Homo sapiens: one gene and its partners. The protein of the gene in region 2 purifies or fractionates together with the protein of the main gene of each other region. This does not show direct contact. Each region holds a gene or a part of one and is shown on either strand. Other genes may lie near its edges.

Region 1 (3,500 bases), on a different chromosome or scaffold from region 2:
CCAAATAGGTGGTTAAGAAATGTTTGCGGGATAATTGGCTGCACAAAATGCAGCGTTCAGCTGCAGATTCATCAGTGGCCCTTGCCCACATCTCCCGCATCCCAAGCTCTTGCATTGTCTCTGAGTCCTGGCCCTGCCCTGAATCGCTGGAGCAGCAGCAAGCACAGACCCTCAGCTAAGAGGGTCCCCCAGCTAAGGTTGGCCCCTGGGCCACCTCCAACCATCCCCACCCCCTTCCCCGACATATATCACCACCACCCTCTCTTCTTTTGTAGCCTTATTCCCCTTGGGAATAAGCCACCTCACACTTCCGAGGACCAGGGTGTAGGGTGGCACCTCGTCCACCAATTGTCATGGCCAGAAGGCTATGTATGTGCCTCCACTCAGGGGGAAGAGAATTCTAAGGAGCGGCTGAGAGAGGCTTGCTATCTGGCCCTGGATTGGGGTGCAGGGACCTCCCAGAGCCAGGCCCCTAGGGATGTGTGGACTGACCTGGGGTCTACGCTGTCTGATTTCTTAACCTTCCAGCTACCTGACCCTGATCAGAGTAGAAGGGACGGCAGTTAAGCAAGCCGGTGAGGAGGGCACTCTGTAATTTTTGAACATACTGGCTGTGTGTGAGGCTGAAGCCACAGCTCCTTCTTACCTGAAATTCATGGAGCTCTGCCTGAGGACTGAGTCCCTTTGGTCTCCATCCAGCCAGGTTCCCATGCCAACCTACTCCCAACACACTGATTGGAACCACAGAGCCCTCCAGCTGGGGTAGCCTGCCTTTGCATGACCTTTATCTCACAGACCATTCCAGAGAGGAGAAACTGAGGCACAGATGCAAGGACTTGCAGTAGATCATACAACCAGCTCTTCTCCCAATATGTACGTGGTTCACTCCCTCACTTCCTTCAGCTCTCCCCATGAATGCCACTTTCTCAAAGAGGCCTACCGGGGCTGCTCTGCTTAGAAACCCCTCCCCCCCAGCACACTCTTTTCCTCCTACTCGCCTTTATTTTCTCCATAGCACTCGTCACCTGATATGTGTTCATTGGTTTGTTTGTTTGTCTGTCTCTTCCCCGTTAGACTGTAAGTTCCATGAGGGCAGGGACTTCCATTGTGCTGTAGCCACAGCACCTAGAATAGCACTTAGCTCAAAGTAGCTGTTCCATAAATATAGGTTGAATGAATGAGTTAGTAAGTGAGTAGGTGTCAGGGCTGGCTTAGAACTTGCCTGCCAGCCTGTGCTCTGTAAATGCAAGGCTACCTGATTCAAGAAAGAGGTGGCAGGTGGGGGCCGGCCTAGGTCCTGGGGGCATATGGGCAGGAAGGAGCAGGGATTCCTGGTAGGAAGCAGGAGGGGGCCATGTCTCCTGTGCTGTCCCCACCCAAAGGATCCTTCAGCTGAGGATTGGGGCTTGTGTTTGTTAGAACTTGATTTGGCTGCTCATAGCAACAAAAAAGAGTAGTGGATTAAATAAGACAGGCATCAGTTATATCTCTCTCATATCATAGAACTTCAGAGGGGTGGTATAGTGGTTCTGCCATCATTCACACGTGGCCTCGTGGTCCAAGGTGGCTGCTGGAGTTCCAGCCATCAGGAAAAAGGAAGGAACAAGAAGCATGTGGCTCCTCTTTAGAGTGTGCCTCCCAGAAACCACATGTGACACTTCTAGTCACATTTTGTTGAACAGAACTTAGCATGTGGTCACACTAGCTGAAAGGCAGGCAGGAAAGAGAACTTAGGGAAGAGTAATTTTTATTTCAGGCACCCAAGTGCCTACCCAAAAAACAGTGGTTCAGTTACAAGGAGGAAGCAGAGAGTGGATATTTGGAGTAGGTGACTGGCAAATGCTACTGCAGAACTGGTCCCTGCAAACCTTGGACGTCTCTGTAGCTGCCCTCTGTCCTCACCTTGCCGGTCAGATCAGCTTCGCCTCTGCACACAGCTCTCAGGAAACACAGCTCTCAGGAAGCCTGGTCCCACTTAGTCCTCCAGTTATGTGGCTGTAGCCTTCTGGTCCTGAGGGGCAGTTTCTGGTAATGCACAAAGAAACCTGGCTCCTTCCTAATTGGGTCTTGAGCTGCAACAGGGATCCGAGGTGTCCCAGGACCCCCATAAGCTGGGCCTTGGGCAGGGTAGGAGGGGAAGGACCTGGGTTCCCCCACTGGCCTGTGGATAGGGAAGAAGTGTTTCTGCTCCCCATCTCTCCCTCTCACCTCAGAGCAGGTGAGTGCAGGGCCAAGGAAATACTGTCTTAGGGGTTTGGCTATGAGCTCTCAGTGACAGCAGCAGCCGGGGGCCAGTGACTTTGAAACCTGCGGGTGGTATTCCGTGGAGCTGCCTTGGGGGCCACTGAGGGCTTGGGGTGCATACCTGGAGAGGAAAATTAAGAGGAGGCCGATTTGGGGGGAGTTTTACGTCCATCCTCTTCACGAAGGCCTACTTTTAACTGTTCCGTATGATAGGTCTCTACGTAAGAATTCCTTTGACAAAAAATTTTGCTGTGATGGTGAAGAGAAGAAAAATGGAAATCTCTGCTGATGCCCTAGACTCTGCAGTTAAGAGGCTTGGATTTTAGCCACAGCTTCGACACTTGTTAGCCTTGTGATCTCAGACTTGTTCCTTGACCTGGGCTTCTCCAGCGGGAAAATAGGTATTGTGCCCTCCTCCATAGCAAGGGCTAAATAGGATCATGTAGGTGGTGCCTCTGATGTGCAGAAAGCATCCACACGTGTTGATTTTTTTTTTTTTTTTTTTTTTTTGAGACGGAGTTTCACTCTTGTTTGTCCAGGCTGGAGTGCAATGGCGCAATCTTGGGTCACCACTACCTCCGCCTCCCGGGTTCAAGTGATTCTCCTGCCCCAGCCTCTGGGGTAGCTGGAATTACAGGCATGCACCACCACGCCCACCTAAGTTTGTATTTTTAGTAGAGACGGGGTTTCTCCTTGTTGGTCAGGCTGGTCTTGAACTCCCAACCTCAGGTGATCCGCCTAATCAGCCTCCCAAAGTGATAGGATTACAGATGTGAGCCACCCGCACCTGGCATGTTGATTTTATTTCTTGTATTGGCGTCAGCCCTAGCCCAGTGTGAGTCAACAGACCCTGTTACCCCACCCCCAACGCCATGCTAGAGCAGCATCCTCTGCGACCTCACAGGGCCAGGTTTTCTTCTTCAAGGCCCTTCCCCATTACTCAGGCTGGGGGCCTCAGTGCGGGGAGGCAGGGTTAGTTGGAGACCGCAGTTTTAGATGAAGGTGGCCAGGGTGGGCTTAGCTAAGAAGCCACTGAGATGGCGCCCCCTGCCTTCCTATTCCTGCCTGGTGCTCCTCAGCTCACCCCTAGGGGGCACTGCCCTTCACTTTGGGGCTTTGAGTCAAAACAGACTTTTTTTTTTTTTTTTTTTTTTTTTTTGAGACAGGGCCTCACTGTGTTGCCCAGGCTGGAGTGCAGTGGCACGATCTCGACTCACTGCAACCTCCGCCTCAGGAGTTCAAGCGATCCTCTCACC
Region 2 (2,591 bases):
TAGTAGGTTTCAGTTAAACCTTATATATGAGTACATTATGTGTAAATGGTATAAACACAAAATTAAGGACATTAATTTTCAGATTGGATTAAAAAACCCAAATTATATGCTGTTTACAAGAAACCCAACCTCAACTAAAAAATATAGAGTTGCTAAAAGTAAAATGGGGGAAAAAACTTATCACGTAAAATCCAAGCGAAAGAAAATTGGAAAGGCTATAGGAATAACAGACAAAGTAAAATTCAGAACAAAGACTATTATCAAGAATAAAGGGTGCTATTACATGTTGATAAAAGGGACAATTCAGCAAGGACACAATACAATTCCAGAAGTGCATTCACCTAAAAATGCAACGTCAAAAATTGAGGAAACATCTGCTAGAACTGAAACGAGAAACAGATTAACCCACCATTATAGTTAGAAAGCTTATACTTCTCTGTTAGAGAATCTGTTAGTAATCAACAGAATGACTAAACAGAAAATCAGTAAGGCTACGAAAGTGGTGAACCAGGCTATTAATCAGTTTATTAATCTATTTTTTATATATAGACTTTTCAGTAGACAACAGCATAAAACATATTCTTTTCAAGTTCAAATTGAACTTTCACCAACATAGACCATATTCTGGGCCATAAAATAAACATTGGCAAATTTAAAATAATTGAAATCATATTAAGTTTGTTCTCTGACCCTGATAGAGGTAAGCCAGAAATCAAGAACAGAAAGATATCTAGAAAAATCCCAAATAATTTGGAAGTAAAAGAACACAATTTTAAATAAACCATGGGCCAAAGGAAAAGTCACAGAGGAAACTCTTAGAACTGAACTAAAATAGGTGAATTTTACTGTATTAAATTATACCTCAAAAAATCTGACTTAAAAAAAAATCCTCTCTGCCTTCCTGAATACTATGTCTAGCATTCAATCAAAACCCTCCAAGTGTGCCAAAAAACTAAGATTAAAAAGAAACAAAAAACAGAAGATAAGATCTACAGGCCACTGAGGTGTTTAAAATGTCTTTAAAAACGACTCTGACTGGTGTGTTGAAGAAAATGGAAGATGGTGAAAAAAATAGGTGAAAAAGTGGAGAAGTGGAGCCAAGCATTGGAGTCTACACTGGCTATTCTATAACTGAAATTAATAACTCAATCAATGGTTTTCTATTTATAAGCAAATTAGATACAGTGAAAAGCATTATTAGTGAACTGGAATATAGGTCAGCAGAAAATATCCAGACTGAATGTGAAAAGGAAAAAAGAATACAAATCCAGAAACTAGAACAAGAGACATATGAGACACGAGCAAACATTGGCCATTGGTGTAACTGAAATATCTGAAAGAGAAGAGGGAGTAGAGTAATAGCAATATTTAAGAGATAATGGCTAGCATTTTTCAAAACTCATGAAAGACATCAAGTCACAGATTCTATGAACCCCAAGCAAGACAAATTCAGAGAAAGTCTCATCCAGGCACCTTGTAGTAAAACTATCAAGGCAAAGAAAAAAAATTTTATAAATGTATTTTTTGAAAAAAGTCATATTACCTTCAGAGGAGCAACAAGACTTTCAGCTAGCTTTTCAGCTGAAATAACTGAATCTGAAAATACTGGACATCTGTATTTACAGTGCTAAAAGAAACTAATTGGCAATATAGAAGTCTACACCCAATCTAAATACTATTTAAAATGAGGCAAAATAAAGATGTTTTCAGATAATAAAAGTGGACAGAATTCATCCTCAGCAGACTTTCATCAAAAAATATATGAGGCTGGGCACGGTGTCTCACATCTGTAATCCTAGCACTTTGGGAGGCTGAGGCGGGTGGATCACTTGAGGTCAGGAGTTCAAGAGCAGCCTGGCTAACATGGCGAAACCCCATCTCTACCAAAAAATACAAAAATTAGCCCAGCGTAGTGGTGCACACCTGTAGTCCCAGCTACACGGGAAGCTGAGGCAGGAGAATTGTTTGAGCCCAGGAGGTGGAGGTTGCAGTGAGCTAAGGTCATACCGCTGCACTCCAGCCTGGGGGACAGAGTGAGACCCTGTTTCAAAAAATAAAAATAAAAAATATATATGAAAGGGAGTTTGTCAGGCAGCAAGAAGATGATCTCACACCAAAAATAATAATAATAATAAAATAGAAGAAGGAATAAAGGGCAACATAAAGTGTAAAAATGTGGTAAAAATGAATACGGACTGCACAAAACAATACTAATAGCCATTTCTTGCAGGACTTTAAATAAATGTATCATAGCATGGCGGCAAGAATGGCATAAAAAGCAGAAGGGAGTGAATGTAGTTAGAGGTGTTTCAAAGTCTTCATTGGTAAAGTGGTAGAAGGAATAATTTATAGTATACCGTAAAAAATCAAGGCTATATATTGCAATCGCAAGCATAAACACCAAAAGATAGGAAAAGAATGAACAAGTTATAAGCTGATAGAGGAGGTGACGGGATAATAAAAATATTCAACAAAGACGAGAGAAGATGAGGAAGGAGAGGAAAAGAACAGAAACAACACTATGTGGATGTCCACGAATGCCCAAATGTTGCTGGATGGGCCCACGCCTACACTCCTACTTGAGAGGTCCC
Region 3 (3,500 bases), on a different chromosome or scaffold from region 2:
TTTAATAAATAATGATTAATTTTTTTCTGTGTTTCAGGTACTATTCTATGAATTTTTCATATATTATTCAGTCTTCCAATGAACTTTAGAAGTTATTACTGTTATATCTATTTTGTAGAGAAGGACTTAAGGCCCAAGTAACTTGTTCAAGGTCATGTAGCTAGTAAATGGCAGAGGAGGCTTCAAGCCCACTTTCTGGCTCCAAAGTTTATACAATTAACCATAGTAACATACAGTATTTGCTAAATGAGCAGAAACAAAAAGGAAGGAAATTCTGACACGTTTTGCAACATGGATGAACCTTGAGAACATGATGCTAGTGAAAGAAGTCAGTCACAAAAGGATAAATATTGTATGATTTTAATTATATGAGGTCAAATTCACAGAAAGTAGAATGGTGGTTGCCAGGGGCTTGGGAGGAAGGCAGAATGGGGAATTATTGTTTAATGATTACAGAGTTTCAGTTTGGGAAAATGAAAAAAGTTCTAGCGATGGGTGGTGGTGATGGTTGCCCAACAATGTGAATGCTTAATGCCACTGAACAGTGTAATTTAAAATGGTTAAGATGGTAACTTTTGTTATATGTAGTTTACCACAATAAAAAAAAGTAAGAAACAATGCTATGAAACAAACATTGAGCCCTCATTACATATTAGGTGTTGGCTTTGTATCTTACATGAATTATCTCATCTAAGCATCATAGTAATGTTACATAAATACTATTACTCCTACTTTACAGCTGAGGAAAATGAAACTTAGAGACTTATGTAAAGTAACTTACCTTGCGTAACGTCTCCCAGTTATTGTCAGTAGTAAAATTAGGATTGGAGCTCTACTCCTAACCATCACGCTGGAATGTTTTATACACTCAAAAGAAAATCACCCTGAGACAAGTATTTGTTGTTAATTTTAGTACATTTAAATGCTAAGTTTTATTTCAAATTTTAGTTATAAAATTCTGGGTGGGCAAATGTTTGCCTTTTAATAAGATCTGTGACTTTTGAGAGAGTACCTTTTGTATATGTTGAGTTAATTGTTGGGCAAATTATCTGTGAAGTCTGATCAAAATCATGGTAAATCGTCACTTCTGCCTGCTTATCACGAGTTTCCTTTTTGCCTTACACTTTAAAGGCAATGGTTTTTAATTCTTTCAATGTGTAATGAATACTGTTTATAAATGACTTTTGCGTGATGCTAGCACATGGGACTGCTTATGAATTATCACTGTTTTTTTTTTTTCATCAATAGCCCATGCATGATGACTATGACTTAAGACAAGAACAGTTGAACAAAGCTTCTCTTCTCTCGTCAAAGAAGTTTCTGGAAAACTTACTGGAGAAATTTAATTCCCATGTGGTAAGTTATAATTAAATTTGTCTTCATGGTAGATACCATACCATTATTGAAAGATATTCTAGAAGTGCCACGTGGATGATTTTTTTTTTTTTTATTGTAGCCCCCAGCTTTGGTCAGTATTGGTCACAGTTCAGCTTGGTCACTGATAATAAAATATTTTGTCTTAGGACTATATCCATTCACCTGGGAAGGATAGATGTCAAAGCCTTTAGATTTTCACAGGGATACTCCAAATTTTTGTTTTTTCTTTCTTTAAAAATATCATTAGGAAATAAACTGCTCTAAAAAAAATTAAGCCAAATCTTTGTTCCTCAGTCCCTGATAACAATTTTGGAGATGGGCATTCTATAGCATCTTGAAGGAACATAAGCAGATTGCCAGAGTTTTGCAAATATTGTCAAATATTATTTTTTGCAAATATTAACCTTTGTTATACACATTTGAGAAGTCTTGGTTATACTCTTGAAATTTGAATTTTAATTGTTCCTTTTGAGGTATGATGGATAATGGATTCACTATATGAGCAAAAGCAAGTACTAAAGAGTCATCCAACTTTGAACCTCATGTTGAGAAATTAAAGTCAATGTTGATGTCTGACATATAGAATAACAGAAAGGAACACATTATTGTTAAAATTTAACTGAAGGTCCCCATCTCTTAAGTCTTTAAGAGAATCTGTTGCATTGTTTCAGGATCATGGGACTGGTGCCCTAGTTATTAGTTCGCTCTTGGACTTCCTTACCTTTGCCCTCTGTGCTCCATATAGTGAGACAACTGAAGGGCAGCAGTTTGATATGCTCTTGGAGATGGTAGCATCCAATGGAAGAACCCTTTTTAAACTTTTTCAGGTGAGAGCTTGTATTTTTCTTGTCAGATAACAGTGAATTTAAGGGAACCGCTTTTAGGATCACTGTTTCTAAGATAACATTTGCATACTTCTATAGCAGAGGTGTCCAGTCGTTTGGCTTTCCTGGGCCACACTGAAAGAAGAGTTGTCTTGGGCCACACATAAAATACACTAACACTAACAATATCTGATGACCTAAAAGAAAAAAAAATTGCAAAAATGTTTTTAAGAAAGTTTAAGATTTGTGTTGGGCTACACTCAAAGCCATCCTGGGTTAGCTTTGAATAAATATAAGCATCCATGTAGGCTGCGGGTTGGACAAGCTTGATCTATAATATTGACGAATAAATGCACCTAGTACATTATCATATTGGTACATTTTGAGTGTACAGATTTCTTGGTGTTTCATGTAGAGTCCCATTGATGGGTGTTCACTGCTGTTTTGACACTCTGCCCATTTTCTATATCTTGCTTTTTTATTTTATTTTATTTTATTTATTTTTTGAGGTGAAGGTCTTGTTCTGTTGCCCAGACTGGAGTGCGGTGATGCAATCACAGCTCACTGCAGCCTCAGCCTCCCAGGCTCAAGTAATCTTCCCACCTCAGTTGCTGAGTAGCTGGGACCACAGGCACATGCTACCAAACCCGGCTAATTTATTTATTTGTTTTGTAGAGACGGGGTCTCCCTTTGTTGCCCAGGCTGTTCTCATGCCCCTGAGCTTAAGCGATCCTCCTGCCTCAGCCTCCCAAAGTGCTGGGATTACAAACATGACCCACCACACCTGGCCTCCATTTTAGTAGTGAAAAACTCATTTTTCTGTGGTAGGCCCAAAGTTCCCTTTTCTTTACAAATTCCCAAATGATAAAATGAGCTTTAGCAGGGCTCTTCATAAACACTGGAAAACATTTGTTATTTTATACAGTACTATAGTACTTATTAGATACATGTATGTATATATGATGTTTATATTTTTATTATTTTAGTATCATTGATATGTATCATTCAAATAATTATAATTATTCAAATAGATGCCTTCTGTTTCCTACTAATGTAAATTCTTTGTTTATGTGTCTGTATCTCTAAGGCTATATTGTAAAAATACCTAAAATATTTAACCAAACTGACTTTGAGATGTATCCTTTACTAATTTTGTGGCTTATACCTTGTGTAAAAATGTATACCCTTCTTAAGAGTAACAGCTAAATGTGTTGGAATAAAATTCTTTTTTATTTTTTGATACTTTTTCCCCCTCACTTTAAAGCATCCTTCCATGGCAATAATAAAAGGAGCTGGGTT
Region 4 (3,500 bases), on a different chromosome or scaffold from region 2:
GCCTGGCCTGAAATGTTTTAAGCAGGAAAGTGAAAGCCTCAGATTTGCAATTTAAAGATCCTTCTGACTTCTGGGGGCAGGAAAGGGGGGCTGTATTCACGCACGACTGCATTTGTTAGGACCTATGACAGATGACCTGCACATGTGTGTACATCCATGCTTACCTGTGTGTGCGGGAACCTTCCCACAGTACAAGGGTGTGTTCTAGCAGACATGTGTGCATGAGGAAAGGGGCCCAGCCAGTGCCCTGTTCCAGACCCCACTGTCTTCCTATGCTTCATGGAGACAGAGAGAACTGTGTGTCGGGCCAATGCCCCCTTCACATCACCGCATGGCCTTGGCTGGTGTCACGCACTCTGCCCTCCTTGAAAGCTCTGCTGACCGCAGATGCCTTGTGTGCCTCATGCAGGGTACACCCTGAATCCTATTCTCATGTCCTCTCCAGCCTCTTTTGAGGCCTCTGCTCAGGACCTGCCTTAGGGGCTCATGTGTGCATAGCAAAGGTGCCTATTCATCGGGGGCCAGCAAGCTGGGGGACGTGTATTTGGCAGTAGGGACCTGGTTATTGGGGAGCAAGAGCATTCCTGGAGGGCCTGGGCCAAGTGCTGGATTTCAGATATTGTGAAATCTGAAGATATGGCTCCCCACTGGCTCCTTTAAGCAGCCACTTCCCCAGGGCACTGAAAATAGGACTCCTTAGGCTAAGTGGAACATTTGGGGAAGCAGGACTATTGCACAAATTGGCCTTCATTGCTCAGTCTTCCCTGCTTCGCAGCTGCACTGGGTACCTTTGGGACCAAGGCCCTGTTTCAGCCCTTCCCAACCTGCACTAGCTGGGGCCTCTGGTCCAGAGTGGCCTCATTAGTTTCTCTGAAAAGCCAAAGTCTCCTTCACCCCTCACCCCAAGTTCAGCAAACTTTCCCATTACAAAGCCCTTTCACCAACCTTAGTTTCATTTGCTTCTCACAGAAACCCTGAGAGTGGCCATTGTCAGTTCTATCTCTCAAAGGAAGGAAAAGACTCAAAGGTTATGTAGATTGCTCAACCATCTGCACGTTTATTGCAGCCAGACAACAGATCCCCGAGTCCCTGGCTCCCAGTCATTCATTAATTGAGGCTGAGGGGTGGGTGATTAACGTTTTCTCAGCAGCTTCTATGTGCCAGGTGCTTTGCGTGTTTCTTTTATTTAATTTTCAGGCCAATCTTCCCTGATAGGAATTATTATTGCCGTTAATAGGTGAGAGGCCCCTAGAGATGAAGTCACCTGCTCAAAGGCATGTAGTTAGTAAGTTCTGGAGCTAGAACTGGAACTCAGGTCTGCCTGATGACAAATCCAGTGGTCTTTGCACCGATCCATGCTGCCTCTTGGCTGCACCCATTGATCAGCCAGGCTAGCCCTTTTTTTTTTTTGAGACGGAGTCTCACTCTGCTGCCCAGGCTGGAGTGCAATGGCACAATCTCAGCTCCCTGCAACCTCCGCCCCCTTGGTTCAAGCGATTCTCCTGTCTCAGCCTCCTGAGTAGCTGGGATTATAGGCGTGTGCCACCATGCCCAGCTAATTTTTTGTATTTTTATTAGAGACAGGGTTTCACCATATTGGCCAGGCTGGTCTGGAACTCCTGACCTCATAGACTAGCCTTTTAGGACACAAAATAAATAAGGCTTGGGCCAGTGTAGACAGTGGTTAGGCCAGGTATGGTGGCTCACGCCTGTAATCCCAGCACTTTGGGAGGCCAAGGTAGGTGGATCACCTGAGGTCAGGAGTTCAAGACCAGCCTGGCCAACATAGTGAAACACTGTCTGTACTGAAAATACCAGCACAGTGGTTCACGCCTGTAATCACAGCACTTTGGGAGGCCGAGGCGGGCAGATCACGAGGTCAGGAGTTCGAGACCAGCCTGACCAACATGGTGAAACACCGTCTCTACTAAAAATACAGAAATTAGCTGGGCATGGTGGCACATGCCTGTAATCCCAGCTACTCAGGAGGCTGAGGCCGGAGAATTGCTTGAACCTGGGAGACGGAGGTTGCAGTGAGCCAAGATCGTGTCACTGCACTCCAGCCTGGGTGACAGAGCAATACTCCGTCTCAAAAAATAATAATAATAAAATAAATAATAATAAAAATACCAAAATTAGCCAGGAGTCGTGGCACACGCCTATAATCCCAGCTACTTGGGAGGCTGAGGGAGGAGAATTACTTGAACCCGGGAGGTAAAAGTTGCAATGAGCTGAGATCAAGCCACTGCACTCCAGACTGGGTGACAGAGTGAGACCCTCTCAAAAAAAAAAAAAAAAAAAAAAAAAGACAATGGTTAATGTGATGACAAAATCATGCATGCAGGACTGTGTACAGGTAAGAGAACAAGTAACTGTTGGAGAGATGTAGAGTCAGGAAGGCTTCCTGGAAGAGGTGGTACATAAGCCCCCCAGTCTGATCTCTTAAAAGATGAGAAAGTAGGGGGAGAGCACAAGCGAAAATATGGAGGTGGAAAATTAAGGAGTCACAAAACTGTGTTGTGTAGGCTATATCGGTCTTGGGAGATCAACCCTGAACCTGGAATGTGCTGGGCTGCATTTAACTATGGAAGGGGCTTGAATGTCAAACTAAAGCATTCAGACTTGATTCTGTTGGGCATGGGCAGCCATTCCCAAAGCTACCATTTATTGAAACCACTTTGTTCTAGAAGGTTGTTCTTATGTTCATCTCAGTAGACAATGGACTCCTGAGGACAAGGCCTGGGTCTTTTTCCTGACCTCAGGTGATCCGCCCGCCTCAGCCTCCCAAAGTGCCAGGATTACAGGCGTGAGCCACTGTGCCTTTAAAGACTATTTTGTCTTTAAAGATCTTAATACTCAGTGGCCTGTAAATGAATCCCCCAGTGAAAGTGAAGTCAGGAGGTCTGAAGAGATCAGGAGTTCGAGACCACCCTGGCCAACATGGTAAAATCCCATCTCTACTAAAAATACAAAAATTAGCTAGGCATGGTCGCACACACCTGTAATCCCAGCTACTTGGGAGGCTGAGGCAGGAGAACCGCTTGAACCCGGGAGACGGAGGTTGCAGTGAGCCGAGATTGCGCCAATGCACTCCAGCCTGGGCAACAGAGTGAGACTTCTCCTCAAAAACAAAAACAAAAACAAAAAGACAAAATAGTCAAATTTCCTCAACAAGTTTCATGTTTGCTTGAGGCCAGGAGTTCAAGACCAGCCTGGGCAACATACTGAGATGTCATCTCTACAAAAAATTTAAAAATTAGCGGGGCATGGTGGCACAAACCTGTAGTCCCAGCTACTTGGGAGGCTGGGTCAGGAGGATTGCTTGAGGCCAGGAGTTCAAGGTTCCAGTGAGCTATGATCACACCACTGCACTCCAGCCTGGGCAACACAGTGAGACCCTATCTCAAAAAAAAAAAAAAAAAAAAAAAAAAAAAAAGAAGTTTCAAGTGGTTCTTCTGGATGGAAGCTGAGGAGCTGAGGGTATACCACAGGGCACCTTG

What was found.
Region 1: the proteins of FCN1 (region 2) and PODXL purify together in Homo sapiens (affinity purification with mass spectrometry; 3 studies listed by BioGRID and IntAct, with this or other methods). This does not show direct contact.
Region 3: the proteins of FCN1 (region 2) and DNAJC13 purify together in Homo sapiens (affinity purification with mass spectrometry; 3 studies listed by BioGRID and IntAct, with this or other methods). This does not show direct contact.
Region 4: the proteins of FCN1 (region 2) and SEZ6L2 purify together in Homo sapiens (affinity purification with mass spectrometry; 3 studies listed by BioGRID and IntAct, with this or other methods). This does not show direct contact.

What each region holds. Positions count from the first base shown.
Region 1 is NC_000007.14:131,546,629-131,550,128, reverse strand, and holds part of PODXL (podocalyxin isoform 1 precursor), read left to right. Parts: intron 1-3,500. UniProt on the Homo sapiens protein: Involved in the regulation of both adhesion and cell morphology and cancer progression. Functions as an anti-adhesive molecule that maintains an open filtration pathway between neighboring foot processes in the podocyte by charge repulsion.
Region 2 is NC_000009.12:134,902,732-134,905,322, forward strand, and holds the end of FCN1 (ficolin-1 precursor), read right to left. Parts: 3' UTR 501-2,591; downstream 1-500.
Region 3 is NC_000003.12:132,459,002-132,462,501, forward strand, and holds part of DNAJC13 (dnaJ homolog subfamily C member 13), read left to right. Parts: intron 1-1,248; coding exon 1,249-1,356; intron 1,357-2,048; coding exon 2,049-2,204; intron 2,205-3,465; coding exon 3,466-3,500.
Region 4 is NC_000016.10:29,889,551-29,893,050, reverse strand, and holds part of SEZ6L2 (seizure 6-like protein 2 isoform 5 precursor), read left to right. Parts: intron 1-3,500. UniProt on the Homo sapiens protein: May contribute to specialized endoplasmic reticulum functions in neurons.